Regions from separate parts of the Homo sapiens genome. Here region 1 is linked to region 2. A link means that fine-mapping ties the variant in region 2 to the expression of a gene that starts in the linked region. Tissue or cell type: whole blood. Region 2 holds a variant in brackets; the other region holds the start of a gene. All regions are shown on one strand. Distances are between the middles of the regions.

The links. PIP is the estimated chance that this variant, and not a neighbour inherited with it, causes the effect.
Region 1: PPM1M starts here. The variant in region 2 is fine-mapped to the expression of PPM1M in whole blood (INTERVAL, PIP 0.92).

The regions. Positions count from the first base shown.
Region 1 is chr3:52,244,594-52,247,274 of GRCh38, reverse strand. It overlaps PPM1M (protein phosphatase, Mg2+/Mn2+ dependent 1M), which reads right to left and starts at 1,516. Exons shown (of 10, transcript NM_144641.4): 1 at 1,227-1,516; 2 at 463-580; 3 at 47-301. The coding sequence starts at 1,450. RefSeq lists silencers at 1,173-1,232, 1,273-1,642.
Region 2 is chr3:52,459,816-52,462,496 of GRCh38, reverse strand. All of the region lies in intron 3 of NISCH (nischarin), which reads right to left. Among named protein-coding and RNA genes, the nearest start is that of NISCH, 5.6 kb to the right of the region's middle. The variant A/T (reference allele first, on the strand shown) is at 1,233.

The DNA.
Region 1 (2,681 bases), 220 kb after region 2:
GGGGCAAAATCTCCACTTCTTCCCCAGCCAAAAGCCACACACTCACACATTCCTGAAAGGCACTCTCCAATGCCCCGATCACCAAGTCTTCTGCCCTGATGCCCTTTTCCTCCACAAACTGAGGGTCACTGGGGCAGATGCAGCGGCCATTGAGGTGCATGGGGGGCTGAGTGGCCACCAAGCCTTCCACCACGGCCTCCAGCTGCCGGCGCAAGCAGGAGTGCAGGGTGTTGGCAGCCAAGATGGCTGCTGCAGGACCGCCGTGCCCATCGAACAGTGCCCAGTAATGGCCTGTCAGGAACTGCACAGGAAGGGCTCAGTGTCAGCCTCTGCCTGACTTCCCCACTTGTCCCCTGACGCAACCTAACTAGGACCTGGGGCAGCAGGGTAAGAACCTCAGCCTGCAGGTCGTGGCCCCAGCCTGTCGGAGGGATTCCAGCCAAGAACTCAGACTGCACTCACCTCCTCTGGGCACAGGGTCAGCCACTCTTCTTCAGCCCCAAACTCACATCTCCGGATGCACAGCTTCCCACAGGCGGCTTGATCCTCATTGAATTCAGATTTCTCTGCATTGATAATCCTGAGGCCGGGAAATGGTAAGCGACCCTCCAGGGACACACCTATGTCCCCATGGGCACAGGGACCCAAGCCAGCACAGGGAGAAGACCCCTCCCTCTGGGGCAACAGCTCCCCAGTGCTGTCCCTAACACACACTTAGACAACCACGATGTAAGCTTCCTAACTTCACTGGCCTCATGGCTAAGGTAAAAGTCAGGGCCCAGCTCCTCTGGAGCCTACCTGGTGACCCAGGGCTAGACGGTAAGGGTAGGTTGCCATTCCTGCCCCTGTCCTGTCGCAGCCCAAAGCCCTGTCCCATACAGCGCAGGTCATACCCAGGGTGAGATGGTGGGGGTAGAGGGCGAGGGGAAATCTCCAAAGCCCCGAATGCTGGAACTCTACCGAGTCTCTGGGCCTCATCTTGGAAGCCCCTGGGCTGCAGGTCCTTCCCGACCTCCTGTCTTCTCTGAGGGGGAGGTCGGAATCCCAAGGAAAACGCTGGGTCGGGATGACCGGGAAGTTGTCAGGATTCGGAGGTGAGGGCAAGAAGGGGCTGTCCACAGGTGGGTGGGGACTGTCACTCAGCTCCTCCCGCTTTCTAGGCGGGCGCAGGACCCGAAGCGGGTTCAGGCCCGGGCCTGAGCTGGGGGTCGGGGAGGGGCACTCACTCGGCGTAGCCTGCATTCCAGGGTAGCGTGCGTCCTCGTGCGGGGCTGCGCACGGGCCGGGAGTCTGGGCGGCGCGAGGCGTCGGCCGCCCCGGGGCTGGAGCTGGAGCCGCGAAGGAAGCGGGGCCGTCGGTAGGGCACGGGGCTGGCATGCGGCCCAGGCGGCCGCGGCGCGGGGAGCGGCTCCCCAGGCAGGAAGCGGCGCCGGAACCAGCCGGCGGACATGGCGCGGCGGCAGGGGGCTGCCCGCGGAGCGCGGGGCGCTAGGGCTGGGCCGCCCGCGGGAGGAAGAAGCGGGCCGCGGGCGGAGCCGAGGGAGGGGTGCGCCGGCGGGAGGCGGGGCCGGGGGCGCGCAGACGGGAGGCGTCGCCCCCCAGCCCCGACCTCCGCCCGGGAGTGCGTGCGCGGCTGGTTCGCTGACTCCAGGGGTCAACGCTCGCGACCGCCTGAAGAAGCCCACGCCGGCATCAGCCCCATTTGACAAGCAGGAAAACCGAGGCCTAGAGAGGCGAAGTCGCCTGCCCAGCGTCCCACAGTAGCCAGGGAGGACTGTTCACCCACGCTTGCGGGGCACTGGTGGTTGAGAGGAAAAGTCCCCCACACTCCGCGGGGCCAGCGTCGCGCAGATCCTCGGACCTCCTCCTGCTGGGTGGGGACCTGACGCAAGGGGAAGATGGGGACAAAATGAGCTGGGAGGTGTCAGACCCCCACATTGAGTAAATGCCACCGAGCACAGGTTCCTTCAGGCGGCCTCCAATCCTCTCCACCCCGGCCTGCCACCCTCCACCCCAGACGGGCTTAGTGGGCACCTTGGCTTTCCCCGTCCTGAGAGGCTGCTGCCACCCTCGAGGACAGTCTTCCAAATGGCTGTCCCTGCATTCAAGATGTCTTCGCGGAATAGACAGCAGGATCCTTACTGGACTGTGAGTGAGTGACGGACAAGAGAAATCTGTGTGAGTGTAAAGGGGAATCCGTGGTCCCCCAAAGGCTCCAGCTGGTCCGAGTTCAGACCTGGGACGGAGGGAAGTGAAAGACGAGGAACCATCTTGCGGTCTCTCAACCACTGGCTAGCTGTCACCAGGCGGTCAGCCGCAGTGTCCCCTTCACATCTGCGAGTTAACAAAGCACTTTGTCACCCATTTGTCACTCAAGTCCAACTCCCTGTGCAAAAGTGTTACTTTGGCCGGAGGCAGTGGCTCACGCCTGTAATCCCAGTGCTTTGGGAGGCCGAGGCGGGCGGATCACTTGAGGTCAGGAGTTCGAGACCAGCCTGGCCAACATGGTGAAACCCCGTCTGTACTAAAAATTAGCCAAGCGTGGTGGTGTGCGCCTGTAATCCCAGTTACTCAGAAGGCTGGGGCACAAGAATCGGTTGAACCCAGGAGGCAGAAGTTGCAGTGAGCCGAGATGGAGCCACTGCACTCCAGCCAGGGCAACAGAGCGAGACTCAGTCTCA
Region 2 (2,681 bases):
TCCCAGCCTGGAGAAAAGGCTGACAAATCTTTAGGCCCCAAATGAAGATCTAATCCAGTGGTTTTCAAGTGGGGGGCAATTTTGCCCCCCAGTGGGACATTTGGCAATGTCTGGAGACATCTTTAGTTGCCATAGCTGGGTGGGGAAGTGCTACTGGCATCCAGTGGGTAGAAGCCAGGGTGCTGCTAAACAATGCATGGGACAGCTCCTTACAGAAACAAATTATCCAGTCCAAAATGTCAACAGTGCTATGGCTGATCAACTGTGGGTTTAATCCAACGATGGGTTCAATTGCTTTTTTAAATCCTAGGATTTATATAACCTAGGGACCTGTTTGATAATACTAATTCCAAATATGTCAAAACTTCTACAAGTAGCGGAGCCTGCCTCAAACCAGAACCAGATGTAGCCGGCCCCAGGCACATCTCAGGCAAACCAGTTTCAAAAGAGCAGTCCAGGCCTTTCCACCCTCAGAGCCAGGCACACGTGAGGCAGCCAGCGAGACCTCCTCTCCTCAAAGGCATAGGTCTCAAGCAAGGAATTAATACCGTCAAAGGACTGCATGTCAGGTTTCATCCCTAAATGGCTAACCAAAGCTTTCTTAAAATACAATATTTCTTTTTTTTTTTTTTTTGTGACGGAGTCTTGCTCTGTCGCCCAGGCTAGAGTGCAGTGACACGATCTTGGCTCACTGCAAGCTCTGCCTCCCGGGTTCACGCCATTCTCCTGCCTCAGCCTCCCGAGTAGCTAGGACTACAGGAGCCCACCACCATGCCTGGCTAATTTTTTGTATTTTTAGTAGAGACGGGGTTTCACCGTGTTAGCCAGGATGGTCTCGATCTCCTGACCTCGTGATCCACCCGCCTCGGCCTCCCAAAGTGCTGGGATTACAGGCGTGAGCCACTGCGCCCGGCCTTTAAAGTACATTATTTCTTAAAATACTAACCAGTAAAGTTTATCTGAAAGACTTGCATAAGGAATGCAAATTTTTTCTCACATAAGAAAGTATAAAAATATGTTTACGAAAGGGTATGTTGCTAACCCTATACTTGCTGGTATATGCTAAATAAAATCCAAAGCATATACACAGGTCCCATCTGTGAATGCTATCTACTTTTCCACCTGTCCCTGCCAAGCTCAGTGGCCCCAGGTTAGCACTCGCCACCAAATTTCTAGGCTCTTTAGTGATCCAAGAAAGGTTCAACTGTCTTACTCTGAAAAGAGTTTAAGGA[A/T]GTTGTTTCTTCTGTTTTTGTTTTTTTCTTTGAGACAGAGTCTCTGTGGCCCATGCTGAAGTGCAGTGGCATAACCTCGGCTCACTGCAACCTCCCCTTCCCAGGTTCAAGCGACTCTCATGCCTCTCTCCTGAGTAGCTGGGACTACAGGCATGAGTCACCACGCGCAGCTAATTTTTGTATTTTTAGTAGCGACAGGGTTTCGCTATGTTGGCCAGGCTGGTCTCGAACTCCTGGCCTCAAGTGATCTGCCTGTCTGGGCCTTCCCAAAGTGCTGGGATTACAGGCGTGAGCCACTGCACCTGGCCAAGAAAGTTGTATTTTAAATACAGCTGGGCTTTTAGGACCATAATCCACAGGTTACTTCAAGGTGAGCCTGAAAAGGGAGTGGATTCTTCCCTGTCTTCATCATATAAAAGGAAAACAAGTAAATATAAATTATCTGAAAATCTATCACTCAGAGAAAACTACTCTTAGCATTTTGGTATACGTAAACCTTCTAGAATTTTCCTAGACAAATATGTCCATATCAACTTGTTTTTTGTAAAAATGAGACCATAGTCAGCCAGGTGCAGTGGCTCACACCTACAGTCTAAGCACTTTGAGAGGCAGAGGTGGGAGGATGGCTTGAGTTCGAGTTTGAGGCCAACCTGAGCAATACTGCAAGACCCCATCTCTACAAAAAAATTTTTAAAATTAGCTGGGTGTGGTGGCATGCACCTGTAGTTCCAGCTACTTGGGAAGTTGAGGCAGGAAGATCCCTTGAGCCCAGGAGTTTGAGGTTGCAGTGACCCATGATCAGGCCACTGTCCTCCAGCCTGAGCAATGGAGTGAGACCCTGTCTCAAAAAAAAAAAAAAAAAAATAGTACAGCCATACAGTTGGATACTGCTTAAGAAAGTTGCATTTTTTTTGAGACAGTGTCTGCTGGGAAGACTGGTGTGCTGCTGGGATAATGATGGTGGAGCTGCAGATTTCTTTTTTGTTTTATTTTCCCAAAGAGCTGGGATCACAGGCATGAGCCACTGTGCTCAGCCTGGCTGTACCCTTTGATTTTTTTTTTTTTTTTTTTTTTTTTTGAGATGAAGTCTTACTCTCACTCTGTTGCCCAGGCTGGAGTGCAGTGACATGATCTCGACTTACTGCAACCTCTGCTTCTTGGGTTCAAGCGATTCTCCTGCCTCAGCCTCCCAAATAGCTGGGATTACAGGCATCTGCCACCATACCCAGCTAATTTTTGTATTCTTAGTAGAGACAGGGTTTCACCATGTTAGCCAGGATGGTCTTGAACTCCTGACCTCAAGTGATCTGCCCACCTCAGCCTCTCAAAGTGCTGGGATTACAGGCATGAGCCACTGCACCTGGCCTGATTTTTTTTTTTTAACCTCTTCTACTAGACTTTAGGGTTGTCCTTACTATTTTGTTACAATCCTGGAATGACTACCTTTGT